Linked DNA regions of Homo sapiens. The protein of the gene in region 1 interacts with the protein of each later gene in a biochemical or structural test. Each region holds a gene or a part of one and is shown in the gene's direction. Other genes may lie near its edges.

Region 1 (4,177 bases):
CGTCCCCATTATTGACAGCTTTCTCCTCGTATTGAAAGCTGCAAAGAGAAACTTTCTTATTTGACATGATGGTGTATAATAAAAGGGAAGAGGACTGAAACGATGAGAAGGACCAGTGGCCTGGTGGAGGGGAGCCATCCAGAGGGTCAGAGGCATGGGGTCCTGCCCCACTGATCTCCTAAGTTGGGGCAATGCTCTTGAGACCTGGCCGATCGCAGATCCACGGGAAGCTACAGGGTAGTGCCACAAGGTCCCAGGAGACTTTCCGCCAGCTTCCCTCAACGGTGACATCTTAGGTAATGGGTGCAAAACCAGAACCAGGAAGTTGATGTGGGTACGAGCACAGAACCGCCTTCCCCAATTTATCGTGTGTGTGTGTGCGCTTCGGCACCTTCTAACAAGCACCCGGGATTACCTTCTCAGAGTGTGCACCACGCAGCTTCTGGAACACAGAGCTTGGCTGTTCTCCTTGCTGCCAGGCTAGTTGCAGAGTCAGATAATCAGACAGACAGGCTCCGCTGGGCCCGCGCAAAAGCAGAAGAGGGGTGTGCAGGTGTCTCAGTGTGCGCGGCGTGGGGTGGAGCTCGGCTAGTGGCTTCACTTCTCCAGGCCTGAGTTCCCCCGTGTGTCTCTACTGGGAGATGAGATGGAACTGGATCAAGGATGTCAGAGTCCTTAGCTGGGCTCCAGTTGTCTGCAGATCTCTCTCCATCAAATGCATCAGTTTGTGTGTGGTGCATATGGTGTAGTAGTTTTTACCAGGTGTCTGCAGCTTTTACCAGATTTTTAGAGGCCATGTGACCATCAGATCATTGGGCTCAACGACCTTGGAGGCTGTGCTCAGCTGCACATGATGAGCACCCATGCCTGCCCTGGGGGAACCTCTGGTCCCTGGCACAGCTGAGCCTCTGTTCCGTGTACTCCAGCCCTGGGTCTCAGCACAGGACTGCCCTGGTCTTGGTCTGCACTGGTGACCTGCCTGAGCCTTCACAGTCCTGGTGGCTTTGCACAGATGTGCATGCCTTCCCTGGGACCCCCCTGCCAGGATCTGACTCCGGTCCCCGCTGAAGGTAGACGGCTAAGCCTCCCTCTCTGTGTCTTCTCCTTCTCTCTCCTAGAAAAAGCTCCCTGTGTTGTTGCTGGGTCACTCGGCCGACCTGCGGCCTGGGGAGTTTGTGGTGGCCATCGGCAGTCCCTTCGCCCTACAGAACACAGTGACAACGGGCATCGTCAGCACTGCCCAGCGGGAGGGCAGGGAGCTGGGCCTCCGGGACTCCGACATGGACTACATCCAGACGGATGCCATCATCAACGTGAGTCCCAGGGACAGGAGGCCGGGGCACCTGCCATCTGTGCCCAAGACCTCAACCTCGAGGTGGTCTCTGACTCGGCTTGCCCCCCTCCCCAGAGCCATTCTGGCACTCGACACATCCACTTGCTAGAAAGTTCTCTCTTTACATTCGGTGGAGCTCTAACCCTGTGACTTCCACCCCAGGGTGCCAGGCACGCTGGGAGTCAGAGGCTGCTGTCCTCGCTCGGGCAGCCTTTCAGAGAAACAGAGGCATGGCCACAGCCCGCAAACACCTTTGCCCAGCTTACACACCCTGGCCAACATTGCTTTTCATTATTATTGTGATTATGTTGGTGGCACGTTTAGCATTCACAAAGCACTTCACCCAGATGCCCCAGATCACGTCCATCCAGCTTTGCCGCAGCTCAGGCACTTGGCTGGAATCCGAGTCTTTGTAGAGGGCCCCCCCAGGCCAGCAGGATGGGAAGTAATACCCCCATTCTCCATGCACCAGGCGGTGCTGCCTGGCCTCCGGGGTGTAGATGCCGAAGCGTATGGTTTGTGCAGAGAACAGTGACAGTCAGACCTCGGTCATCAGGCAGCCATCCACATGGCCTTCTTATCTGTGAAATGGGGGCAGCACTGAGGCCTTTCGATGCTGCTGAGGATGAGACCTGCTTATGTGTCTCTGCACTGGTTAGAGGCAGATCTGGAGAAGGGGCTCCAGGAAGCCTCAGGCGGGGTCAGGCACAGCTAATGCTGTTTCCTCCCCTTGCAGTACGGGAACTCCGGGGGACCACTGGTGAACCTGGTAAGTGTCCCCTAGAGCCAAAATCTCTCAGGTTTCTGGGGTTCTTCTCACATGGGGGTGCTCAGCCTTGAGGTGGGACAGGGCCCACAATATGGTCCTAGAACATTTACACCAACAGTCGGGAGTGCAGCTGGGCCGGAGGCCTGGAAGGAGGAAAGACCAAGGCTGCCCCAAGCGCCTCGGGGATGCTAGTGGCCACCAGGAATGAGGACTCACCCATGAGCAGCAGCTCAGTCCAGGGCCATGTGCCTGTCAGGGGAGCTGGGGCAAGGGAGACGCAGGTGTGGGGCTGCTCACCTCAGCCCTCCCTGCCCTGGATGTACACACAGGATGACAGGGGCACCCTCATTCTCCCCTTCCCAGTTGTGTCTTGAGCCTCAAAGTCAAGCTCAGCCTCATCCCAGGTGAGATTTTTCCAGAATAAACCAGGAAGCTCAGTTCAGAGCTCCTAGGCCCTGAAGGATCGGACGGTCCCACCCCTGAAGCTCCTATCCATGGCTGGGGAGGTGTCCAGATGTGAACAAGCCCAAGCACCATGTGAGCCACATGAGATAGCTCTGGAGGGACGCTGGGCAGGAAGACCTGGCAGCTGATGTGAGATCAGGGAGGGCTTCCTGGAGGTGAGAGCATTATACAACAGCCATCGAGATTGAGGAGGACTGGGTACAGGAAGAAGAAATCCCAGGGAGAAGGCACAACATGAGCATTGCAGGAGGCTCTCAGAGGCTTAGGGAGGGGGAGGTCAGACAAGGGGACAATGAAAGGGGCTGGTGGCCCATGTCCTGCTGCCTCAGGCCTCGTGTGCAGATGGGGCTTCACCCTATGTGCCCAAGATGTCTCCCAGGCTTTTGGCAGGGCTGAGGCCGTGCCCTGGTTTCAAGGAAGCTCGTGTGTGTGGTTTAGGCTGGAGGCCAGAAAGCCAGGCCCAGGAGGCTGCTCCGCATGGTCCAGGCAGTAGAGATGGGCACAGAGGGCCGAGGGTGGACACAGAACTCAATCTACTGGATCTCACACTCGGATGCTCTTCCTGCCTCCTGAGCTTCCAGGGACCAGGAGGACAAAGGGTGCCTTGACCCAAAGCTCTGCCCCAGGCCCCAGAGGGATCCCTGGTGAGCTGGCCAGGCCCTGACAGGGAGGGCAGGGCTAGGGGTATAAGCCAGGCTGTGGGGTGGGGCTCCTTTCCAGGAGTGTGCCTGAGTGTGAGGTCCCCAGGGGCCAGGTCAGATCCTGCCCAAGTGGTACCAGCCTCATGGGGGGCAGGGCAGGTTTGGAGGGTCTCCAAAGAGAGGGATGGGGGGGTCAAGGAGCTCCCCTGGTCCCACCTGCCAGCCCCCCACTTCTGGAAGGTAGGGATAGACAGGGTCTCTGTCCCCGACAGGCCTTACCATGTTCCTCCCTCTCTCGGTCCCTCCAAACATGGCTTGGCGGTGTCCTTGGCCCAGTGGCCGTGCTTCTTAGAGGCAGAGTGGCCAGAGCCTGGGGGCAGGCCCGAGCTGCAAGCTTCCCTGGAAATACTCTCCAGGGATGGGGAAGGGGGATCTCCAGGATTTGGAGAGGTAGGGTCACTGACACAGGTGTGATCCTGAGAGTGAGCTTTTCAGGGGAGTTGGGGGCTGTAGGGGGATTGACAGCTGGGGTCAGCCTCTAGAAACAGAGCTGTGGACACAGTGCTTTGTGGGCAGGGGTTTGCCTGGGTTCCCCCAACTGATGCCTGCTCTTACCTCCCTGCCCAGGATGGCGAGGTCATTGGCATCAACACGCTCAAGGTCACGGCTGGCATCTCCTTTGCCATCCCCTCAGACCGCATCACACGGTTCCTCACAGAGTTCCAAGACAAGCAGATCAAAGGTAAAGAGCTCACCTGGAGGGGGCCAGAGGCAGGGGGCACTCTCCCAGGGCTACAGCCCCTTAACACCCCAGCCCTGGGACCAAGGCCCACCGGAGGTGCTGGGTGAACTTTGCTCACTACTGGACAGGTCCTGTCTGCCCACCCCAAAGCTGTGAGACCCCCAGGACAGCTTATCCTCAGCCTCTTTCAGGATCTTCCCCCTGCCTATCATCGATTCGTGATCGGC
Region 2 (4,177 bases), on another chromosome or scaffold:
TTTCTTGTTCTGCTTTGTGGAGTTCACTCATCTCACTCCCTCAAACACCTTAGCTTTGTGGAGACTTGTTGTATTGCTTGTATTCTGACCTAGGAATGTCTTCCCTTCTTTTCTGTGGCTTTTGTAGTTATCAATGCCCTGTCTCAGAGATATTTCCTTCAAGCCAATGATCAGAAAGATATGAAGGACTGGGTTGAAGCCCTGAACCAAGCCAGCAAGATCACCGTAAGTTTGGTTTCTTCTGTTTTCTGGTGGTAGTAAAAGTGCCTCTTCCCAGGCTATGGCCTTGTTGGGGTTGGGGAAAACTGAGATGGCAGCGGGGACTTTCCCAGGAGCCTGGTCTGTACCCAGTTCTCTCCCACCTCGTCTTTTTCCTTGGCTGACCAAACACAAGTTGAACTGAGAGTCTGAGTTTGAATCAAGTTCAAGGGGAAGTTCATGGAGCGTCCCCTTTGTGCTTCCTGGGAGGGCTCCCGATCAGTCATGTTTCGGGTGATTCTGGGATGCTGATTCAGAATGTGGTAGGATTGGAAAATGGATTGGTGACTGTGAAAAGTCAAGTAAGGGGAAAAGCATATGGGGAGGGAAGTCAGAACTTTTTCCCAGCTTGGGGGATACTCTTCTTACTTTCAGAGGCTGCCTGCAGGGTCAGTCCAAGCCATCCGCCTCCCTGTCCTAGAAAAGCCTTCTGTTTAAAAGCATCACAGAGCTCGTTCATGGACTGTCCTACGAGTGTGCTCTTTTTCCTTGAGTTGGCTAATGAAGAATTCCTTTCTTTTTCCTTAGAGATATAGAAAAAGAAAGGAAGAAGGGTAGGAAGGATGGAGAGGGGAAACTATGTTTTGGAAAAAACTAGACTTTTAATCAATAAGACAGGCAGACTCCTGGCTTATATAGATCATGGCTTCTTTGCTGAAAAGTTTGTTTCTGTATCATACAGTCAGAAATGCTTATGTTTGAGGGGCTTCCAGTAGTGACTATTACATGCTGCAGCAAATTATCCTCCCAGATTTCTCAGGGTTCCTGTGAACAACTGTATAGAAGAAATTTGTACACGTATATAGTATTCATATTGCTAGACCCAACCTGAGTGTAATTGAGTCTCCTATAAGCACTTTTGCTGATTAGCTTCTTATTCTGATAAACCTTGGTAAACCCGTGAAAAGAGAGAGTGATGAAAAGAGAGAGGATGGATGGCTGGGTGCAGTGGCTCACGCTTGTAATTCCAGCACTTTGGGAGGCCGAGGTGGGTGGATCACCTGTGGCCAACATAGTGAAACCCCGTCTCTACTAAAAATACAAAATTAGCTGGGCGTGGTGGCACACGCCTGTAGTCCCAGCTACTCAGGAGGCTGAGGCAGGAGAATCACTTGAACCTGGGAGGCAGAGGTTGCAGTGAGCCGAGATCGTGCCATTGCATTCCAGCCTGGGCGACAAGAGTGAAACTCCACCTCAAAAAAAATAAAAAATAAAAAAATTAGCCAGGCCTGGTGGCTTACACCTGTATTCCCAGCTACTTAGGAGGCTGAGGCAGGAGGATCACTTGAGCCCAGAAGTTTGAGGCTGCAGGGAGTTATGATCGCACCACTGTACTTCAGCCTAGGCAACAGAGTGAAAGCCCATCTCTTAAAGAAGTCTCAGGTAGTGTAAACAGCTTTGGAAAGGCTCTGCATGTTGATCTGAAGCACTGCATGACACCGGAGCATAAGCACTGACAAACAGTGTTCTTCGGGATTTTGAGAGGAAACACAGCAGCCAAGCTTCTGTGCCTCCTTTTCTGGCCACTGGGAACTCTAAAAAGTTACTTTCTGGCCAGGCGCGGTGGCTCACGCCTGTAATCCCAGCACTTTGGGAGGCTGAGGCGGGTGGATCACAAGGTCAGGAGTTCGAGACCAGCCTGGCTAACATGGTGAAACCCCGTCTCTACTAAAAATATAAAAACTAGCTGGGCATGTTGGCATGCACCGTAATCCCAGCTACTTGGGAGGCTGAGGCAGGAGAATCACTTGAACCCAGGAGCTGGAGATTGCAGTGAGCCGAGATCGCGCCACTGCACTCCAGCCTGGGCGACAGAGCAAGACTCCATCTCAAAAAAAAAAAAAAAAAAATTGTTATTTCCCTCCTTCTTTGCTGGGTTTCAGGAATTCATCTGGGTCATTTAGGGGAAATTTCTGCAGTTCCATGGTGATTTTAATCACTAAATATCAACTAAAAATCAACATCCCTAAAAATGTGGTTACATAATAACAGAACTCACAGAAAGTGAGAAAGAGTAGCTTAGGTAGGTCGTGACATGCAGCAACAAGGAGTCAGGCAGTCCTAGAGCCAAATCACTTAATTTTAATGAGCTTGAGTTGACCTCATCTATAAAGTGGAGAAAATCATGCCTGGTTGATAAGATTAGTGATAATGCAGCAAAGAGCTTATCAGTGCATTGCCTGGCACTGAATGGTGGCCCAGAGAAACTGTAACTGCTGGTATCTCTCAGCCAGAAAGAAAATAGAAGGCGGAATTTCTGGCCTGATTTGGAGGGGTAGGGAGGGGGCAGAGGACGTCCTTGTCTATGTAAACTGAGTGTGCAGTCCAGGAAGAGAAGGTCTCGTTGTCTTTGTGGGGGCCCAGCATAATCAGGGTGCTCTTATTGTTTTGAACAGACACCAAATGACAGGGCTGTCATATAGCTCTGAGCTCGGATCCTTAGGTCTTTCTTACTCTGAAAGCTGTAGAAGTGGGAGAGGACCTTAGCTTTTCTCTCGAAGTCCCGGTGACGTCCCGGCAGATAGATGTAGGGTGTTGCGTTCTCCTGAAGGTGGGGCATTGTGATGCTGGGGCACTGGTGGGAAGTCAGAGTTTAGTAGACATTCAGCTGTTTTTTTGTTTTGTTTTTGTTTTGAAACGGAGTCTCGCTCTATAGCCCAGGCTGGAGTGCAATGGCGTGATCTCGGCTCACTGCAACCTCTGCCTTCTGGGTTCAAGCGATTCTCCTGCCTCAGCCTCCTGAGTAGCTGGGGTTACAGGTGCCCGCCACTACGCCCAGCTAATTTTTGTATTTTTAGTAGAGACGGAATTTCACTATATTGGTCAGGCTAGTCTCGAACTCCCGACCTCAGGTGATCCGCCCGCCTCGGCCTCCCAAAGTGCTGGGATTATAGGCATGAGCCACTGTGCCTGGCCGACATTCAGCTGTTAATCCTGGCTTTGGGTAAATGACTCAACTGTTCTGGACCTCTTTTTTTTTTTTTCTTTCTAACAAAATGAAAGATTTCCTCAGCATTTGCAGACTCTAGTATAAATGAGTGAAGTGGGCAAGGAGGAGGAAACAGGGCAACAGGAATGAGGATAAGTGACATTTGACCCCTGGCCTCTCCCGTTCTGCTGGGGAGAATGGTAGGGACTGTGCAAACACAATGTATTTTCTATCTAAAAGGGAACTGCTGCATAGCTGAAAATCTGGATTTTTCTGTGAAATATCCCAAAACTTAGATGCAGATTTTAAAAAATACTGCATGTGACTAACAAAACATTGTTTGGGCAAAGTCAGTGGGTGGGCCACCAATTTGCAACCTCTGGCCTGTGATTTCCAACTAACAATAAAAATTTTATGATGATTTGATCAGCTGTGGTACCATATCTCTGTCAAGGAAGAGCAAAGATAGCTCATTCTTCCAAAAGGGCTCTGTGTATAATTATTAGTAACAACGTGGGAAGCCTTAATTATAATATTTTGTAATATGTTTTTCTTTTTAGTTGTGTTTCTAAAGCATTTAATATACTCTATCATTTGATAACCACAACGATGGTTATGATAAATATTATTCCACTTTTCATTTTATGCATGAGACGGTTTAGGCCTAGAAAGGTTTGATGGTTGCCAAAGGTCTCTCAGGTGGTTCGTGAGAGGTGAAGGGTTATACCACACATCTTCTGGCTCCAGACTTCATGGACCCCTTGTTCTGTCTCTACAAAGGCATGCATGCATTTTTACCTGTTCAATCTGCCCAGAATGCCTTCTCCCAGCTTCATGTTCCTGGTTCCTTTTATTTAGTTTTTTATTTTGTATTTTTTTCGAGACAGGGTCTCTGTCACCTAGCCTGGAGTACAGTGGTGTGATTATAGCTCACTTCAGCCTCCAATTCCTGGGCTCAAGAGATTCTCCTACCTTGGCCTGTTGAGCAGC
Region 3 (4,177 bases), on another chromosome or scaffold:
GCGACAGAGCAAGACCCTGTCTAAGAAAAAGGTTATTCAGGGTGGGGCCCCGGGAGTTTCTAGCCCTTCCCTACAACCGGCCACCATGCCCCTCTCGCAGGTTTTGGGACCCTGGCCCAGCCGCGGACCCCCTGACCGACCTGCGCTACGTGTGGGGCGGCTTCGTGTACCTGCAAGACCTGGTGGAGCGTGCAGCCGTCCGCGTGCTCAGCGGCGCCAACCCCCGGGCCGGCCTCTACCTGCAGCAGATGCCCTATCCGTGCTATGTGGACGACGTGTGAGCTCTGGCACCCCTCCCCGCTCTTCCCCGCGGCGGGAAGGTCCCGGGTGTGGGGGTGGGCCCAGGCTCTGTTGGGAACCTTCCTGCGGTCCAGGCTGCGAACTTTGCACCTTTACACCACTCCACGTGACCTGCTGCAGCGGGAGGAGCAGGGGACTCTGAGGGTCTGGTGGGGGGGGGGACTCTGAGGGTCTGGGGGCCCCCGGCGCAGGGACAGCCTGGGCTGCACTGATGCCTGAGAGCCAAAGGCTGGCTGGATCAGGTTCCAAGGAACAGGGAGGCAAATCTTCCCGCCTTGAGATCCCGGGACACGAACCAGTCGTGCCAGATGGTGGGCGGAGGGGGGGTCTGCGGAGGGTCTCCAGCCTCCACCCCAGCCGTCCCCACCCCAGGTTCCTGCGTGTGCTGAGCCGGTCGCTGCCGCTCTTCCTGACGCTGGCCTGGATCTACTCCGTGACACTGACAGTGAAGGCCGTGGTGCGGGAGAAGGAGACGCGGCTGCGGGACACCATGCGCGCCATGGGGCTCAGCCGCGCGGTGCTCTGGCTAGGCTGGTTCCTCAGCTGCCTCGGGCCCTTCCTGCTCAGCGCCGCACTGCTGGTTCTGGTGCTCAAGGTGGGCGCGCCTCGGCCTGCCCGGCTGCAGAATGGGTGCGCTGGAGGGTGACAGACAGGGGCGGCCCCACGTGGGTGCGCGCCCCCAGGCCAATCCAGGAGCTGCACCCTAAGCTCCCGTTGCCTCTCACAGCTGGGAGACATCCTCCCCTACAGCCACCCGGGCGTGGTCTTCCTGTTCTTGGCAGCCTTCGCGGTGGCCACGGTGACCCAGAGCTTCCTGCTCAGCGCCTTCTTCTCCCGCGCCAACCTGGCTGCGGCCTGCGGCGGCCTGGCCTACTTCTCCCTCTACCTGCCCTACGTGCTGTGTGTGGCTTGGCGGGACCGGCTGCCCGCGGGTGGCCGCGTGGCCGCGGTGAGAGCCGGGTCGGGCGTGGATGGGGGACGCCCCCCGCTTCGGCCGCTCACTGACCGCCCGCTTTTCCGCAGAGCCTGCTGTCGCCCGTGGCCTTCGGCTTCGGCTGCGAGAGCCTGGCTCTGCTGGAGGAGCAGGGCGAGGGCGCGCAGTGGCACAACGTGGGCACCCGGCCTACGGCAGACGTCTTCAGCCTGGCCCAGGTCTCTGGCCTTCTGCTGCTGGACGCGGCGCTCTACGGCCTCGCCACCTGGTACCTGGAAGCTGTGTGCCCAGGTGGGCCGTAGGGGGCGGGGCTCCGGGCCGGGTCGCACCTGCTTTGCGGGAGGCTGAGCTAGGGGTGTGGCCTCCAGGCCGTTTGGGGGTGGGGGGTGGCTTATTCCCTTGGAGAGAAGGCGGGGCTTCTTGGCACACGCATGCAGGTGGCTGCATTGGAGGGGCGGGGCCTGAGGCAGGTGGGCGGGGTTTCTGGGCCGCCTCATACCTGGACGCCCTGATTCCAGGTGTATGGCCAGAAGCTGGCACAGTCGCCGGGCGCTGTGGCTCACGCTTGTAATCCCAGCACTTTGGGAGGCCAAGGCAGGAGAATCGCTTGAGCCCAGGAGTTTGAGACCAGGCTGGGCAATATAGTGAGACCTCATCAATACAAAAAGTTAGCTGGGCGTGGTGGCACGCTGGGCGTGGTGGCACGCTCCTGTAGTCCCAGCTACTCGGGAGGATGGGGTGGGAGGATCACTCGAGCCCAGGAGGTTGAGGCTGCTGTGAGCCGTGATCCCACCAGCCTGGGCAACAGAGTGAGACCTCCATCTCTTTAAAAAAAAAAAAAAAAAAAAAGCTGGCTGGGTGCGGTGGCTCACGCCTGTAATCCCAGCACTTTGGGAGGCCGAGGCGGGCGGGTCATCTGAGGTCGGGATTTCGAGACCAGCCTGACCAACATGGAGAAACCCCGTCTCTACTAAAAATACAAAATTAGCTGGGTGTGGTGGCGGGTGCCTGTTTCCTAGCTACTTGGAAGGCAGAGGCAGGAGAAATGCTTGAATCCCGGAGGCGGAGGTTGCGGTGAGTCGAGATCGCGCCACTGCACTCCAGCCTGGGCAACAAGAGTGAAACTCAGTCTCAAAAAAAAAAAAACAAAAAAAAAAAAAACAAGGCCGGGCACGGTGGCTCACGCCTGCTTTCCCAGCACTTTGGGAGGCCGAGGTGGGCAGATCACGAGGTCAGGAGATGGAGACCATCCTGGCTAACACGGTGAAACCCCGTCTCTCCCAAAAATACAAAAAATTATCCAGGCATGGTGGCGGGCGCCTGTAGTCCCAGCTACTCAGGAGGCTGAGGCAGGAGAATGACGTGAACTGGGGAGGCGGAGCTTGCAGCGAGTCAAAATCGTGCCACTGCACTCCAGCCTGGGCAACAGAGCAAGACTCCGTCTCAAAAAAAAAAAAAAACAAAACCCCAAAAAAAGCCTGGTACACTCCTGGGGGGTGGGCTAAGCAATAACCCGCGCCCCTCCCCGCAGGCCAGTACGGGATCCCTGAACCATGGAATTTTCCTTTTCGGAGGAGCTACTGGTGCGGACCTCGGCCCCCCAAGAGTCCAGCCCCTTGCCCCACCCCGCTGGACCCAAAGGGTGAGGCACTACGAGGCTTAATAGCTGGTTGTCCACATATGCCCAGTTCCCCCCCAAAACGAGATTCCACAGATGCCAATGACAATGACCTGGACACCCCAACCCTCACACCTGCCCTGAAGACACTGCGGTCCCCAAGCTCCCGCAGCTTTTATAGGCCCCGGCCCAGCAGGTCCCGGATTCCACAGCCCAGCTCTGAGGGACTTGCAGGCCCCAGGACCCCCATGACCTCCATGGCTGAGTCCACCCCATCTCTGCAGTGCTGGTAGAAGAGGCACCGCCCGGCCTGAGTCCTGGCGTCTCCGTTCGCAGCCTGGAGAAGCGCTTTCCTGGAAGCCCGCAGCCAGCCCTGCGGGGGCTCAGCCTGGACTTCTACCAGGGCCACATCACCGCCTTCCTGGGCCACAACGGGGCCGGCAAGACCACCACCCTGTGAGCCCCCAACCACTCCCTCCCCGTGAGCCCCCCCACTCCCACCCCGTGAGCCCCCCCACCACTCCCTCCCCGTGAGCCCCCCACCACTCCCTCCCCGTGAACCCCCCACCACTCCCTCCCCGTGAGCCCCCCCACCACTCCCTCCCCGTGAGCCCCCCACCACTCCCTCCCCGTGAACCCCCCACCACTCCCTCCCCGTGAGCCCCCCCACCACTCCCTCCCCGTGAACCCCCCACCACTCCCTCCCCGTGAGCCCCCCCACCACTCCCTCCCCGTGAGGCCCCCCACCACTCCCTCCCCGTGAACCCCCCACCACTCCCTCCCCGTGAGCCCCCCCACCACTCCCTCCCCGTGAACCCCCCACCACTCCCTCCCCGTGAGCCCCCCCACCACTCCCTCCCTGTGAGCCCCCCGACCGCTCCCTCCCCGTGAGCCCCCCCACCACTCCCTCCCTGTGAGCCCCCCCACCACTCCCTCCCTGTGAGTTCCCCCACCACTCCCTCCCTGTGAGTCCCCCACCACTCCCTCCCTGTGAGCCGCCCAAACCACTCCCTCCCTGTGAGCCCCCCACCACTTCCTCCCTGTGAGCTCCCTGTGAGGCCCCCGACCAGTCCCTCCCTGTGAGCAGTAATGGCGCCACTGCACTCCAGCTTGGGCAACGGAGTAAGACCCTGTCTCAAAATAAATAGGGCGGGAGTGGTGGCTCACGCCTGTAATCCCAGCACTTGGGCAAGCCGAGGTGGGAGGATTGCCTGAGGTCAGAGTTTGAGACACAGCCTGGCCAATATGGCAAAACCATCTCTACTAAAAATACAAAAATTAGCCGGGTGTGATGGTGGCGTGCACCTGTAATCCCAGCTACTCAG
Region 4 (3,256 bases), on another chromosome or scaffold:
CACACTCCAGCCCAGAAAGGAAAACCAAGGGCTCAAGGAGCCACCCAGAGATGCAGTGACAGAGCAGAGCCTATGGCCGTGGCTGCCAGGCCTTGCCCCGCCCCACTAGGGTGCAGCCTCCAGACGCAGCCCCCTCACTCCCACAGCTCAACTTCATCCTCTTCATCAATATCGTCCGGGTGCTCGCCACCAAGCTGCGGGAGACCAACGCCGGCCGGTGTGACACACGGCAGCAGTACCGGTGAGCCCACCATGCCTGCCATGCCCTGGCTCCTCAGGGGTCCCTGAGTCCTGGTACCATGTACCCCAGGAAAGACAGTGGCCCCATGAATGATCCTGGGGCAAGGGAAAGGACCCAGCGTCTGACTCCCTGGCTGTCCTCACCCACCTGGCCTGCCCAGCAGTGATGGGAGGCCCTAGGGCACCCCAAAGCCAGCCTGCCCACTTGTACCAGGCCCTGCACTAGAGCTGGAGTCTGTGAGTGTGCAACGAACTTGAACCTCTCCTCAAAGAGTTGGTTGCAGGGGGTCTGAGGAACAGGTAGGCGGTGAGTGGCCCCGGGAAGGCTGCAGCTCAGCTGAAACCTGAGGAGCGGACTGTGGGATAGTGAGGTTCGACCGTGGAGGGGAGTGCTTGCCAGCTGAGGGCTCCACAGGTGCGAAGGGCCCAGGGACAGGGGGACTGTCATTTGAAGTCCGCTCCGGGACACCGCTGAGAACCAACGGGCCCTATTAGCACTTAGCCAGGACAGCAGCCATGCAGGTGAACTGGGTTGTCCTCCCATGGTGACTGGAGCCCTGGGCCCCTTTGAGCTTCCGGAGCCTGGGGCTCGCAGGGTGGGGGGTGGCACAATGCTTGTTGAAGGGGAAGTGGCTTGGCCCTGACCTACCTGCCCCGCTGGCCCAGGAAGCTGCTCAAATCCACGCTGGTGCTCATGCCCCTCTTTGGCGTCCACTACATTGTCTTCATGGCCACACCATACACCGAGGTCTCAGGGACGCTCTGGCAAGTCCAGATGCACTATGAGATGCTCTTCAACTCCTTCCAGGTGCGCAGTGCTGGCCCGGGCCTGGCTGAGGGTGGGAGGGGTTCCGGGGGCAGGCCTGATTCGAGACACCCCTCTTCACAGGGATTTTTTGTCGCAATCATATACTGTTTCTGCAATGGCGAGGTAAGCAGGAGACAGTGTTGGCATAGGGCAGGGTGGGGCAGATACCCCAGAGGCTTCCTCAAGGCTCATTTCTCCATTCTTCCACCCTGTTATTTCTTTGTTCCTCCAAGAACACCCCTGAGGACATTCTGAAAGCAGAGAAGTCTTTCCAGATGATGCAGGTTCAGGATGTGCTAGGATGTGGGGACTCTTCAGTCACTGGCATAGCCAAGTGTCTTCCCAGCCCCATGGTTCAATTATCTGTGACCCAGATTGGAGGACTCAGCCACCTTTGGGGCAATTTGAGCCTTGTAGATTCTGGGTGTGTCGGCTGCCTGTAGCCAAACACCCTGTTGTGAGGATGGGATTTCACTTGGCCTTGGAGTTTCCCAGGAGTCCCCTATTCCCATTTTCATTCCGTGCTGGGTGTCCAGGGGCCGGGATGGGGCATCGCTGGGGTTGGGAGACACACCTGACTGCCGCACCCTTACTGCCCCAAGGTACAAGCTGAGATCAAGAAATCTTGGAGCCGCTGGACACTGGCACTGGACTTCAAGCGAAAGGCACGCAGCGGGAGCAGCAGCTATAGCTACGGCCCCATGGTGTCCCACACAAGTGTGACCAATGTCGGCCCCCGTGTGGGACTCGGCCTGCCCCTCAGCCCCCGCCTACTGCCCACTGCCACCACCAACGGCCACCCTCAGCTGCCTGGCCATGCCAAGCCAGGGACCCCAGCCCTGGAGACCCTCGAGACCACACCACCTGCCATGGCTGCTCCCAAGGACGATGGGTTCCTCAACGGCTCCTGCTCAGGCCTGGACGAGGAGGCCTCTGGGCCTGAGCGGCCACCTGCCCTGCTACAGGAAGAGTGGGAGACAGTCATGTGACCAGGCGCTGGGGGCTGGACCTGCTGACATAGTGGATGGACAGATGGACCAAAAGATGGGTGGTTGAATGATTTCCCACTCAGGGCTGGGGCCAAGAGGAAAAACAGGGAAAAAAAGAAAAAAAAAAGAAAAAGGAAAAGGAAGCGGTGTGTGGCTTCCTGTGGCCCAAACTGGGGACTCACTCCGAGAGGGTGGGGCTGGGAGCCAGGGAAAGCTGTGGCGGGAGGGCCATGAGTCATGGAGGAATCCTCAGGTCTCACTTCAGAATGGGGAGGGATCTGGGGCCTGTGGTATCCAGCAGAAAGGGCCCAGAGTGGCTCAAGTCTGCAGGGGTCACACAGCAGCCAAGTGGACCCATGTGGAAATCCAGCCTCAGCCTCCGTTGCTGCCAGCTGTGGAGCTGCTCTCCACACTTGTACCTAGACCCCATGGGGGACCCAGGCTCCTCTGGGCCAACTCTTCTGACTGCTGCCCCCATCACTGCCACCCAGGGCTGCTGGCAGATCCCTCGGGTCCCTGGCCACACCCCCAAGCCTACGGCCCTGCCACAGAATGGACCTTTCCTGGCTGTCCAGTGGCCACTCAGGGAGCCCTCCACGCAGGAGCCTTAGCATCCACCCGTGACCTGACATGCCTCTGTGACTGAGGTTGCAGTAGGAGCACCAGGCCAGCAGGTGAAGGGTGGGCTGGGTCCCTGCTCTGGCTCAGGACTTGTGGGGAGCCAGGAGTCTGAGCCCAGAGGGCTGGCTGGGCAGGGGCCTGCAAGGTGGGACACATCCATTCACTATGCATCTGGGACAGTCACTAAGTGTCCTCACCTGACACCCACCTACCACCTTACTCACCCCCCCGGACCGTGCCCTCTCCCACCTTGGGCCATTCGTGGGCCCCAGAGTGGCACAGAGCCCCTCAGCCCGACACCCTGAGGACTGACCCTACAGCATGCCCACCCCGGGCTCTGGCCTGAACGAGCTTCTTGCTCTTGCTCCAGCCTAAAGACAGCCCCGCACGAGCCCTGCCCTGCCTTCCCATCTCCCGCTCAGCCCGTCTTACTCTTCTCCACGGACTCGGCATCCAGGAGTGCACCTCATCTCCAGCAGCCCACACACACCCCATAGGGCATAGGGGAGGGGTCAGGAGGCCCAAGACAAAAAACTCAGGTGGGCGTTAGGAGGTGTGGGTGCCTGCTGAGCAGCCCCACACCCAGCCCTGCCTGCCC
Region 5 (3,733 bases), on another chromosome or scaffold:
TGAGTCCACCCAAAAGTGATCAAACAGTATTTCTTTAAGAGTGTTTAATAATTCACACCAGATCTCCTCCCCAATTACTGCACATTAGCAGAGCTTTGTGCATCCCGGTATGCACTTGCTGTAGGGTTAACCTCACCCTATACCTTGGGAGGTTCTGCTCATTTCAGGGGCAGGTGCTTGAAAAGGGACCCCAGGGACTAGAACAGATACAAATGCACCAATGTTTATTGCAACATTATTTACAGCAGCTAAAAGGTAAAAATAACCCAAGCGTCCATCAATGGATGAATGGATAAATAAAATGTGGTCTATGCATACCATGGACTATTTTATTCTTATATATATACAATCATGGGGGTGCAAGTGCAGTTTTGCTACATTGAGGTAAAGTCATGGCCTTCAGTGCATTCATCAGTGGAGCAATGCACATCATACAGTGGAATATTATTCAGCCACAAAAACGGATCAAGGTCTGCCATGTGCAACACCATGGATGGACCATGCAAACTTTATGCTAAGTGAAAGAAGCCAGTCACACAAGGACAAACACTCTCTGCAGTGCCTATATTAGGCAGATTTCTAGAGACAGAAAGTAGAATGGTGCTTGCCATGGGCTGAGAGAGAGGGGATGAGGAATTACATTTAATGGGCACAGAGTTTCTGTTTGGGATGATTTAAAAAGTGGTGGAAACGGATGGTGGTGATGGTTGCACAACACTGTGAATGTTCTTAATGCCACCTAATTAATCTTACACTTCAACATTTCTTAAAGCAAGCTGTTTTATGTTATGTATATTTTGCCATGATAAAGATTATGTAGAATGATAGCACGTGGACCTAGGATCCAATTTTCAAAAGGAAAGCCAATGACAGTTGGCAGTTTTGGAGAAGCAGGGCCACAGTGGTGAATGCCTGGATATACACAGCCTATTCTTTGAAGGAGAGTTGGGTGCCGGGGCAAGAGGCAGGCTGAGTCAAGGGAAACCAAGTAACCCAGTGTGGCTCTTCTTTCCCGTTTAGGTTTCAGCACAGCCAGTCCCACAGGAGCCCAGCAGAAAAGATTACGAGACCTACCAGCCATTTCAGAATTCCACAAGAAATTACGATGAGTCCTTCTTCGAGGACCAGGTCCACCATCGCCCTCCCGCCAGCGAGTACACCATGCACCTGGGTCTCAAGTCCACCGGCAACTACGTTGACTTCTACTCAGCTGCCCGTCCCTACAGTGAACTGAACTATGAAACGAGCCACTACCCGGCCTCCCCCGACTCCTGGGTGTGAGGAGCAGGGCACAGGCGCTCCGGGAACAGTGCATGTGCATGCATACCACAAGACATTTCTTTCTGTTTTGTTTTTTTCTCCTGCAAATTTAGTTTGTTAAAGCCTGTTCCATAGGAAGGCTGTGATAACCAGTAAGGAAATATTAAGAGCTATTTTAGAAAGCTAAATGAATCGCAAGTTAACTTGGAAATCAGTAGAAAGCTAAAGTGATCCTAAATATGACAGTGGGCAGCACCTTTCTAGCGTGAGCTGTAGAGTAACGAGAAGTGCTTTATACTGAACGTGGTTGATGGGAGGAGAGACGAGGCATTCGGGCCGGTGGGGCGTAAGGGTTATCGTTAAGCACAAGACACAGAATAGTTTACACACTGTGTGGGGGACGGCTTCTCACGCTTTGTTTACTCTCTTCATCCGTTGTGACTCTAGGCTTCAGGTTGCATTGGGGTTCCTCTGTACAGCAAGATGTTTCTTGCCTTTTGTTAATGCATTGTTGTAAAGTATTTGATGTACATTACAGATTAAAGAAGAAAAGCGCGTTGTGTATATTACACCAATGCCGCCGTGTTTCCTCATCTATGGTTCTAAATATTGCTTCAATTTCAAACTTTTGAAAGATGTATGGATTTCCAGTTTTTCTTTACTTTCTCCCAGTATGTTTTAACAAAAAAAAAAAAAAGCAGGAAAAAAGGAATATTTAGCAGTATTGTTCGTTCTGATATGTGAATTTGTTTGTGACAACTAAACAAGGCATTCAGCAGTTTCTGACAATTAACATACATCATTCCACACTCCTTGTCAACAAAGTGCTTTTTCACTGCCTAAAATTTTAGATGTAGATATTTGAAATAGATTTTTTCATTTATACCAGTTTTCTTTATGATGATACAGTGTTAAAAGAAAATAAATTACAATTGATCTGTCATCCATATTTGCTAAGAATGTCTATTTCCAAGAACCTATATCTTACAAAATACACATTCTTGCTTGTGTGTCTGTGTGTGTGGGTGTATGTATGTCCACGTACTAGAAAAATTACCTGTGTGAGATTTTATTTTGACAGAAGCTATTTCATTTGCTGTTCATCTTGTACAAACTTTGTTTTTGGTTTTTTAGTATAAATGTACATCAGTTTGTTCCTTTTGTACTGTATCTATTCTTCTGACCATCTAGTGACTCAGGATATTAGGCCAGTTGAAGTGGAGTTATAGGATTTTCACACATTCACGCATACTTGGATATCAACCCTCTCTACAGGTCCGTTTCCTTACACATTTTATCCCCTCAGAACACGATAAACCATGGCCAATTCAGTTTCACTTTGGGGCCAATTACTTGAAGTATCCACAGAAAATGTAAACTGCTCGCCTTATTCCCCCAAACTTTTTGTTCATGTGGCAGGGAGCAGTACACAACTATGGAATAGATTATTAAAACTGAACTTGAAGCTAACGTTAGAATAGTGGTTAACAGAGCTAAGAAATAAGGCTAACCATCGAAAAGAACATGGGCCGCGGGTAAACTAGCTTTGCTCTTTAGATGCAAGTGGCTGAGGCCAATAGGTGCCTAGTAAATGTTAACTGTTCTTGGAAAAAATAAAAACATCAGTAACAAAAGAAATTGGCTGCCATCGTCCTTTAAAACTGGCTTCCCTTCACGCTACATAGTTTAATTCAGCTCCAAGTCTCAAGTAAATGGTTCTTTCTCCAAATTTAACAACAATCAAATGATGATAGTCAATTCACGCATAGTTTTGGAAATGAAAAGTTAACTTTCAGAATAGAGCAGTAGACAGAAATGTATGTGTGAATTATGTACTAGTTGGACATACAGGACTCCACATTTCTGGATTCCCTCACAGGAATGCTTCAGACCCTCTAGAGAGAGAGAAACATGGCACATTGAAGACAGGGTTTCCACTTCATCTGTATCATACAATGCAACAGTAAAGAGAATGTGATATGGACATGACTTCCCTATAACATAAGGGCTGGCTTAACCTTTCCAGAAGAAAGCAATAGGACTCATTCTCTGGTTGGAGTTGTGCCACAGAATTAATGTGCTATGGAATTCCTCCTCCTAGTAGAAACCGTATATTTTCTTTATGATTTTTGAGTCTTAATGCATGCCCTACATTTGCGACTCATGAAGACCAAGGATGTCTTTGCATCCCATAATTCTTTGAGAGCACATTGTGCCAGGCTGTGATTAGCTGACTCAGCTAGGAGCCTCCAGCATCAGAAGGAGAGATAGTGGGAAAAATTTAAAAGTGTTTGTAATTATTCAAGCCAATCCATTTTTCCTTTTTAGGCACATATACAAATAGATTGAGGATAGATATAGACAGAGAGAGAGAGAGAGAGATGACAGATAATACATAGCTATAGATAGATGATAGATGGTGGATGGATAGGTAGATGGAGGTAGGTAAGTCAATAGATGGGGTCTTACTTGA
Region 6 (4,177 bases), about 65 Mb from region 1:
ATAAAAGATGGGAACAAAATCTTTCAATGCTCCACATACCATATAAATAGCTTCTCAAAGAGCTTTCTGTAGTTTTATAGGAAAACTAAGGCCCAGTGTTTATTTTTTAGGAAAAGCTCCAAAGAACTTGGGCCAACATATAATGGGGTGGGGGGAGGGGGGAGGGATAGCATTAGGAGATATACCTAATGCTAAATGACGAGTTAATGGGTGCAGCACACCAGCATGGCACATGTATACATATGTAACTAACCTGCACATTGTGCACATTACCCTAAAACTTAAAGTATAATAATAATAAAATAAAAATAAAAATAAAAAAATAAGGATCCAGACCTGATTCTATCATTTATGAGTACTATGTCCATAGGAAAGCCACTTCAACTCACTGTACTTTTTCTTACCTGTAAGAGATCAAACCTGATAAAGTATCAGGTTTATTCCAGCTCTAACACTCTGAAATGCCACAAAATGCACTCCCCAATAAATTAAGATTAAAGGAATGCCCAAACCCCAAACATGATCATTGTGATCATTTCTTATGAAACATAAGAATGAGACATAAGAATTTTATATGAGATACTGGCAGAATTTGCTGAGTCAGTCTCAGGCAACATTTAATAAGTAAATATGCAGCTAAGCAGTGGACTATAATGCTTTTACACAGCCAGAAAATAGCAATATTCCTAAAATTAATGAAAGCATACACAAATCCACTCAGGATGCTAGGACACAGGCAGCTGAATGATATGAGCTTATAATCTATTCTTCCCAGACTATTTATCTTATCACAGCAACACCCTGAAGCCACATGCAAAGGATGAACCAGACTCCCCAGTGCTCTATAGAACCATGAGTGAAGCAGCTCTGGTGAGAAAAAGGATGAAGCCTCTGATGATGGACAGAAAAGAAAGACAGAAAAATAGAGCCTCTATTAATGGACACTTCTATAACCATGAAGTAAGTGAGTTACAATTCCATTAATGTAATATAAAATAAGGTTCCCTGTTTCACTAACAATACCACCCAATTCAATTCACAATTTAAAGTCATAATAATAACAGTAGCATGTCTAACATCTTGGGGGCACTCTCTATGTGCTAGATATTAAAGTAAATGTGTTTTAAATAGATTTTTACTGAATTATCTTATTAATCACTAAAACAATCCTATGAAATAGGTACCATTATTTTCTTTACTTGACATATAAGCTAATTGAGGCTTATGGAGATTAAGCAATTTGTCTTAGATTATGCTACTCTTAAGTAGTAACTCTCAACCTGAACCCAGCTTTGTCTGACTCCAGAACACAAGTTTTTAACCACCATGATGGGTGAACTCTATCACTGTGCCAAGTATTAAAAACATGCAGATGAGGCAGCCGATGTCTCAGCCAGCACGGAGCTCAGGGATTGAGCAGGGAAACCAACATACCAACAATAATACTGGAATAATGTAAGTGCTACAAAGTGGTTGGATCAAAGGACATTTGAACGTGAACATTTAAATAAAAGGAAAAAGCCACAGGCCAATTTATTCCAATAAATCAAACTTCTCATGTTGCCATGTTCCAGGTCTTTTACCTATACACATACCGTTTTTATATAAGTGTAGTTGTAGTTTAGATACAATTCACATTCTGCTTTTTCACTGAATATGTGTTAAATTTATATGTGCCTTTCCATAGTGCTTGTAAGACATTACATTTTGCTGAAGGTAGGAAATATATCATCATTTTTTTCCAGAACTCAAATATTTTTCATGTGATGTACTTTAGCAATCATTCATCGCTCCATCTCATAAATACTTAGCACTTACACTGTGCCAGGTATCTTCTGAGGCCTTTAATAAGAAATAGGAACTCATTGCTTTGTAGGCTTTTTCCTGTAAGGATTTCTACTTTATTTCTTCTTCTTCTACCCTTGGGGGGTAACGATAGTGTGTCTTTGGAGCCTGGTGGGGAGAAATCTCTCTTCTCAATTATTTATTCATATCAGAATTTTAGGGTTCCAGAATCATTCTCATAGCTATAAAGTAGCATTGATAGTCCCCCACAGAGAGGTACCTACCAATTGTCCTGTTTCCCTCTTCACAGAAATTGTGTTGTATGTCATTATCTTGTGGGGTAATTTGTGTTGAAGAAGGAAAGCCACATTGCTCCAAGCAAGTGGCTTTCAGATTGGATCACTTGTGCTGGAAATGAAATTGACACTAGGTTGGCAGCACGGAATGGTGGTTAAATGCTTGGGCCCTGGAGCTTGACAGCCTGGTTTTACATTCTTGCTGAGCAAGTTTCATTCTTCTTACTTTACAAGGCTGTTGATGGGATGGAATGAAATGAGGTAAGTTCAGCATAAGAATAGTACCTGGCACAAAAGAACTCGGTCTACATTAGCTTATGTTGTTGCTGTTGATTGAATGAGCTCAAGCTGGGACTATAGATATTTTACACAAATGTCATTCACTGCAATTTAATAACTAGCAGAAAACAATACAAACAAAAAAGAAAAAACAAAGCATTCTATCAACAATTATACAATGACGGACATCTAGGAATTTTAGTGGATATGTTTCTTAAGTTGCTGTGTGTCGTAAGATATGTTTTTATACTATGAAGCCCCTTGTTAATGCCAATATTGTTAGGCTATGAATAACACACATATTAAAGGCTTAGATTGTCATATCTGGAGATTAGTTATGGTGAATATAACTTGACCAGTAGTATATTTCTATCAATGTGATAGTAAATGATAGCAGGTTTCATTATATGTTTTGGCCAACACAACTGATATAAAGACTATAGATTTAAATACTGCTCTGAAAAACAAATTCACTATATGTTGACATTTTAGAAGAGCTCTTAGAGATTAGTCTTACTATCTTATTTTATAAATGAAGTCATTTATCAAATATATGTTAAGTGAGTCAATAAAGATGTTAAATGAGTTGACAAAGTTGGAGTTCGTGGGCATTTAGTGGGCACTAAAATCTAGGTCTCCTGAATGGTAATCCATGTTATTGTCATAGTGCATGAAGCTTCTTCACATAAACAACATCAAACCACGTGTACAACATATCATATTCACCTTAGCGCAGGATGAACATGTGGTTTTTCAGGGCTCCATAGAAATCGTAAATGTCACAGAATAACTTATCAATGCTCTAAAATGTCTACAAATATTGAATTTTCTCATACTTATAAAAGTTTATCCTAGACACTCTCCACACATCTTCTCAGAAAACTTATTTACATATCCACATTTTTACTCACACAAATGCCGTGTGTGTGTGTGTGCGTGTTACATGTGTGGGTGTTATAAATGTTTGTGTCTGTATACTTTGATGTTAATTTACTGATCTCTCAATATAGGACTTATCTTTTTAACAGTCCAATGAGCCACCCCAAAACCCACCCATCTCTACATCTGCTGAACCCACCCCATTTCTACAGAGCCTTGGAATACTTGGAGATTGTGCATATAAATAAAATATGTGGAAATAAATCCTTACTTAATATCTCTATCCGTTTTTAAATATGCATCTGGTGACATTCTTTCTTACTTATTTTGAAATCTTAAACTGCACTAAAGAGGGGTGTAATTGTCCAGTGAAAATGTTATAAGCATCCTCAAATGGTGTTTTACCTAATTTACTCTAGAAACAATATAAAGCTGCTTAAAAGAACACATAATATTCAAAAACAACAAAGAAAAACAAACAAAAACAAAACAAATTTTTTAAATTAATGACCTTGGATTTTTTTTGCCCTATAAGAAGATTATGTTCAAGATATTGAATACCCTTAATATAATATAATTTTAAAGACTTATGTGACAATTCTTTTTCTAGACATCAATTTTCATTCCAGCCTTTGAATCAGAAACTAAGGTCAGAGTAAACAGTAACATGAGAACTGAAGAAGTAATAAAGCAACTTCTCCAAAAATTTAAGGTAACCTTTATCACTTAACTGAGCTATAAATATATTATATATAATTCAACTATAAACACACAAATCCACTCTTCTGAAACAGATCTATAAAGGTGTAAATCTAAATTGGATGTTGAGCACTGAAAGATTCTTTCCTTTGTATAACACCTTTTAGTAACTATCCCTTGAAAAATTATATAATTCCCATAAGAGCAGAGAAGATTTTATGTCTAAAAGTGAAAAATGG
Region 7 (3,896 bases), on another chromosome or scaffold:
GGCCTCGAGGGGTACAACCTCTACCGACTCGTGGTGGAGGTCTTTGGCACCTATGTCCCTGGCTACCTACTCAAGCTGAGCGCCATGGGCTGGGGTAAGTGGTTGGGCGGGGGGTGCCTCAGACCTGCCTCTCCCACTTGGCTCTGGCAAAACCCAGGCACCTGGTTCTGCCTCTCCACCTATCTCTCTGACTTCCCTCCTGGCCTCCTTCACTCATCCTCAGGTGTCCTTCACCTTGGCTGAATCAAGGTCCCCTTTAGGAAGAAGCAGTGAGCCCTGTCCCCAAGAAACACTTCCAAATTCTCCACATCACTCACTCCATTGCAAAGGGGATTTACGAGCAGGGCCACCGTGTGTGAATGTGCAGGTTGTGCACTGCTCAAAGGCACCCAGTTCAGAGATCAGAGGGGCTGAAATCCAGTCCCGCTCCAGTCATTTAATTCACTCGGGCTGGCAGTGGCCCTGCCTCAGGATCCCCCTGGACCTTGGGTAACAGATTCCCTGTGGCTTGGCATTTTGTTCTTGGCCAATGACTGTTCAATTCACCTGTGGCCAGCCCTCTTATGTCAGACCTACAGCCCAGGGGCTCATGATGCCACAAGTCTGTTTGGACATTGCACAGACCCCTCAACCTCCGCATGCCCCTGACTCCAGCTTGCTGCTCTTCGCGGGTTTGTCATTGGGCCCCTTCTTTGTCCATTCCCCCATTTGCATGAAATTCCTTTGGAGGTGTCTCTGTGTCAGGACTTTGTGTTTGGAGGTGGGCAGCCCCCTCTAGGGAGCTTCTAATCTCCACCGAACGGGCGAGGTCAAGGCCCAGTGCAGACGTCCCCTGATGGCAGAACTCTTGCCGTCCCTCCTAAACTGTCTGCCCCTCCCATCTCCCCTGTGACATCCAGCCCTGCAGCAGAGACCCACAGGCCTTTCTCCCAGGGGCCCCCAGGGTGACGAAGGGCAGGGCTAAGGTTGGAGGAGATGGCATCCCCTTATAGGAAACCCATACTGGAATGGGGAGGGGGAGGGTCCAAACTTGGGGGAACTTCCCCACCAGATGGGGCTGGGTGGGCTTCAGGAGCCCAAACTTCAGAGGGGCCCTTGCCCTCCAGACTCCCTGAGGCCAGCAGGGAATGGGCAGGCCTCAGAGAGCGGGAAGTAGAGCAACATGCATTGCCACCCTCAGGCTTCCCCATCTTTCTGGTGACGCTGGTGGCCCTGGTGGATGTGGACAACTATGGCCCCATCATCTTGGCTGTGCATAGGACTCCAGAGGGCGTCATCTACCCTTCCATGTGAGTGGCTGTGTGCAATGGGGGCAAGAAGGTGGGTCTCTGGGCACAGAGGCCAGAGTGCAGCCCGGGCCCAGGTCATGCTGGCCAGGGGACACCTGGGTTCCAGTCTCCTCGAGGAATTGGCCTGGCAGTGGCTGAAGCACTGGTCTAAGAGTCATGGAGGGTGAGAAAAGGCCTGGATCTACCACTCACTCACCAGGTGACCTTGCACAGGCCCCGGCCCTTCTCTGAGCCTCGGTTTCCTCATGCATGAATGGGGGTATGGGTTGGAGCAGATGAGCCTCACCACATTCCTCAGCAGCACCTCTCTGTCTCCCCATGCAGATGGGAAGACAGAGGCTCAGGGAGGGAAGAGATCCGCTCTTGGCCACACTGAGGGCTGGTGTGCTGTTCGGAGGCAGAGGATGAGTGGGGTTGAAGTCCAGTCCTTCTCCACTCACCTGATTCACCCAGGCTGGCAGCGGCCCTGCCTGTGGATCCCCTGAACCCAAACCGGAAGCCAGGGTTCCTGAGCTCCAGCCTGGGAAGGAATCCTTCCCATTGGCTCAGTGGTTTTGAAATTTTCAGCTCTTTATGTTGTGACCCAGTGATTTCTGCCTCACTTTTGTACTATCTATATTATTACTTACTTAACATTTTCCTTTAAACAATCTGACTTGTTAACTCAAATGTATTTTTAAAATTACATCAACACTGTAAATAGAAAACAAGCGCACTTGCTGTAAACAGTGGATAATCCTGAAAACAAACATGACAACCACAGCCCAGGAAATGCTGCCCGTGCTGGCCACACGCTGAGCCCTCCTGCCTTTGCCCGCAGGTGCTGGATCCGGGACTCCCTGGTCAGCTACATCACCAACCTGGGCCTCTTCAGCCTGGTGTTTCTGTTCAACATGGCCATGCTAGCCACCATGGTGGTGCAGATCCTGCGGCTGCGCCCCCACACCCAAAAGTGGTCACATGTGCTGACACTGCTGGGCCTCAGCCTGGTCCTTGGCCTGCCCTGGGCCTTGATCTTCTTCTCCTTTGCTTCTGGCACCTTCCAGCTTGTCGTCCTCTACCTTTTCAGCATCATCACCTCCTTCCAAGGTAAGGAGAAGACCCGTCCCTTGGCCCAGGCAGGGTGTCTACACATGGAGCAAGGGCAGGGAAGAGATCACCCAGGGAACCTGAAGACTTCCCTTCTCTGGGCCTCAGTCATCCCATTCATAAAATGGGGACATCCAGGCCACAGTCAACAAGTCTTGATTGAGCACCTACTATGTGCAGGCCCTGTGTTAAGCCACAGGGCTTATGGCTGAGCTGGTTGGGTGTGGGCCTTGTTCTTTTGGAACTCAGCTCTACTGGGGAAGACTGCGCATGAGCAGGCAAGCATATAGCCATCAAAGGTGGTCCCAGATAGTAGGGACATCGTCGTGAGCACGTGCTGCACAGGGCCTCGGCTGGGGTGGGGGACACCCTAAGAAGGGTGGCCAGGGAGGCCTCTCTGGATATGAGACGTGTGAAGACAAGAGAAGGATCCCCCCATGGAGAGATGGGGGGGCCTCCCTACTCCAGGCGCGGTCCACAGACCAGCAGCAGCAGCGTTGTTAGGAGCTTTTTGGAAACGCAGCCTCTGGGCCACCCGGGCCCTGCCACATCAGAATCTGCATTTTCACAAATGCCCAAGGGGTCACGTGCACATGATAGGATCAGGAGCCCTGGTCTAGGGGAAGGAAGCTCCAGGCAGAGGGAGAGGCAAGAACAAAGATCCTGAGGTTGGAACCGGTTGTGTGTAGGAAGGACAGTGAGGGAGAGCGTGGCCAGATGGCGGCGGGTCGGGGCGGAGAGGTGGGATCCCAGGGCAGGGTCATGATGGCTCTGGCTTGATGCCAACAGGGTCCCTTTCTGTGCATGTACCTGTGTGTGTACATTGAGGTGCACACACAGGCATGCACACCCCTCTGTTCCTGGCCGTGCAGAATGGAAGGGGGTTGTATGGCCAGGCCCAGGGGCTCTCATGGGGTTCAAGGCCAGCCTCCCATACAGGGTCACCCTAGAATGGGAGCTGGGAGTTGGTGGTGGGGAGATGTTACCACATTTCGGTTATTTAACATTCAAGCCTTCATTCCTGCCTGTGAGATGAGGGGACTCAGGATTGTAAGTGAGGCCCATACATTCACACAGACATTTACTAAGCTGTGGATACATCATAGTGCTATTAATTTGAGGGGTGCAAAATCTCACAGTGCTTAAGTGGGTGGACTTCAGAGCCTGTTCACCACAGTTTGAGCCCTGGCTCAGCCACGTCCCTTTACCTGAGCCTCCTGGGCCTCAGTTTCCTTGTTTACAAAAGAGAATAGTAATGAATAGGATGGGCCTAGGAAGTTTGTGACAGTGAGAGGCCACACGGGGACGCAGCACAGTGCCCGGCTCATAGGAGGTGCTCGCTGGGTCTCATGGGTGCCCGACAGCACGTGCTTGGCAAACACTATGGAGAGGTGGGGCAGACCCGAGTCACAATGGCTGGGGAGGGAGGAGGAGGGATGGGGTGGGGCTCCCCCACCTGCTGACCCCGTGCCCTCACTGCCCGCAGGCTTCCTCATCTTCATCTGGTACTGGTCCATG

What was found.
Region 2: the proteins of HTRA3 (region 1) and PLEKHA2 interact in a test that uses a peptide from one of them, tested with the Homo sapiens proteins (one large-scale study listed by IntAct).
Region 3: the proteins of HTRA3 (region 1) and ABCA7 interact in a test that uses a peptide from one of them, tested with the Homo sapiens proteins (one large-scale study listed by IntAct).
Region 4: the proteins of HTRA3 (region 1) and PTH1R interact in a test that uses a peptide from one of them, tested with the Homo sapiens proteins (one large-scale study listed by IntAct).
Region 5: the proteins of HTRA3 (region 1) and CTNND2 interact in a test that uses a peptide from one of them, tested with the Homo sapiens proteins (one large-scale study listed by IntAct).
Region 6: the proteins of HTRA3 (region 1) and RASSF6 interact in a test that uses a peptide from one of them, tested with the Homo sapiens proteins (one large-scale study listed by IntAct).
Region 7: the proteins of HTRA3 (region 1) and ADGRG1 interact in a test that uses a peptide from one of them, tested with the Homo sapiens proteins (one large-scale study listed by IntAct).

The regions. Positions count from the first base shown.
Region 1 is NC_000004.12:8,290,252-8,294,428, forward strand, and holds part of HTRA3 (serine protease HTRA3 isoform 1 precursor), read left to right. Parts: intron 1-1,118; coding exon 1,119-1,313; intron 1,314-2,069; coding exon 2,070-2,102; intron 2,103-3,835; coding exon 3,836-3,950; intron 3,951-4,177. UniProt on the Homo sapiens protein: Serine protease that cleaves beta-casein/CSN2 as well as several extracellular matrix (ECM) proteoglycans such as decorin/DCN, biglycan/BGN and fibronectin/FN1.
Region 2 is NC_000008.11:38,945,997-38,950,173, forward strand, and holds part of PLEKHA2 (pleckstrin homology domain-containing family A member 2), read left to right. Parts: intron 1-127; coding exon 128-225; intron 226-4,177. UniProt on the Homo sapiens protein: Binds specifically to phosphatidylinositol 3,4-diphosphate (PtdIns3,4P2), but not to other phosphoinositides. May recruit other proteins to the plasma membrane.
Region 3 is NC_000019.10:1,046,130-1,050,306, forward strand, and holds part of ABCA7 (phospholipid-transporting ATPase ABCA7), read left to right. Parts: intron 1-100; coding exon 101-277; intron 278-672; coding exon 673-895; intron 896-1,027; coding exon 1,028-1,249; intron 1,250-1,323; coding exon 1,324-1,525; intron 1,526-2,765; coding exon 2,766-2,876; intron 2,877-3,136; coding exon 3,137-3,308; coding exon of another isoform or gene 3,309-3,333; intron 3,334-4,177. UniProt on the Homo sapiens protein: Catalyzes the translocation of specific phospholipids from the cytoplasmic to the extracellular/lumenal leaflet of membrane coupled to the hydrolysis of ATP. Transports preferentially phosphatidylserine over phosphatidylcholine.
Region 4 is NC_000003.12:46,901,620-46,904,875, forward strand, and holds the end of PTH1R (parathyroid hormone/parathyroid hormone-related peptide receptor precursor), read left to right. Parts: intron 1-146; coding exon 147-241; intron 242-906; coding exon 907-1,048; intron 1,049-1,129; coding exon 1,130-1,171; intron 1,172-1,650; coding exon 1,651-2,037; 3' UTR 2,038-2,180; downstream 2,181-3,256.
Region 5 is NC_000005.10:10,971,001-10,974,733, reverse strand, and holds the end of CTNND2 (catenin delta-2), read left to right. Parts: intron 1-1,020; coding exon 1,021-1,281; 3' UTR 1,282-2,898; downstream 2,899-3,733. UniProt on the Homo sapiens protein: Has a critical role in neuronal development, particularly in the formation and/or maintenance of dendritic spines and synapses. Involved in the regulation of Wnt signaling.
Region 6 is NC_000004.12:73,581,963-73,586,139, reverse strand, and holds part of RASSF6 (ras association domain-containing protein 6), read left to right. Parts: intron 1-775; coding exon 776-960; intron 961-1,306; coding exon of another isoform or gene 1,307-1,321; exon of another isoform or gene 1,322-3,534; intron 3,535-3,849; coding exon 3,850-3,951; intron 3,952-4,177.
Region 7 is NC_000016.10:57,659,588-57,663,483, forward strand, and holds part of ADGRG1 (adhesion G-protein coupled receptor G1 isoform b precursor), read left to right. Parts: coding exon 1-94; intron 95-1,180; coding exon 1,181-1,289; intron 1,290-2,109; coding exon 2,110-2,378; intron 2,379-3,864; coding exon 3,865-3,896. UniProt on the Homo sapiens protein: Adhesion G-protein coupled receptor (aGPCR) for steroid hormone 17alpha-hydroxypregnenolone (17-OH), which is involved in cell adhesion and cell-cell interactions.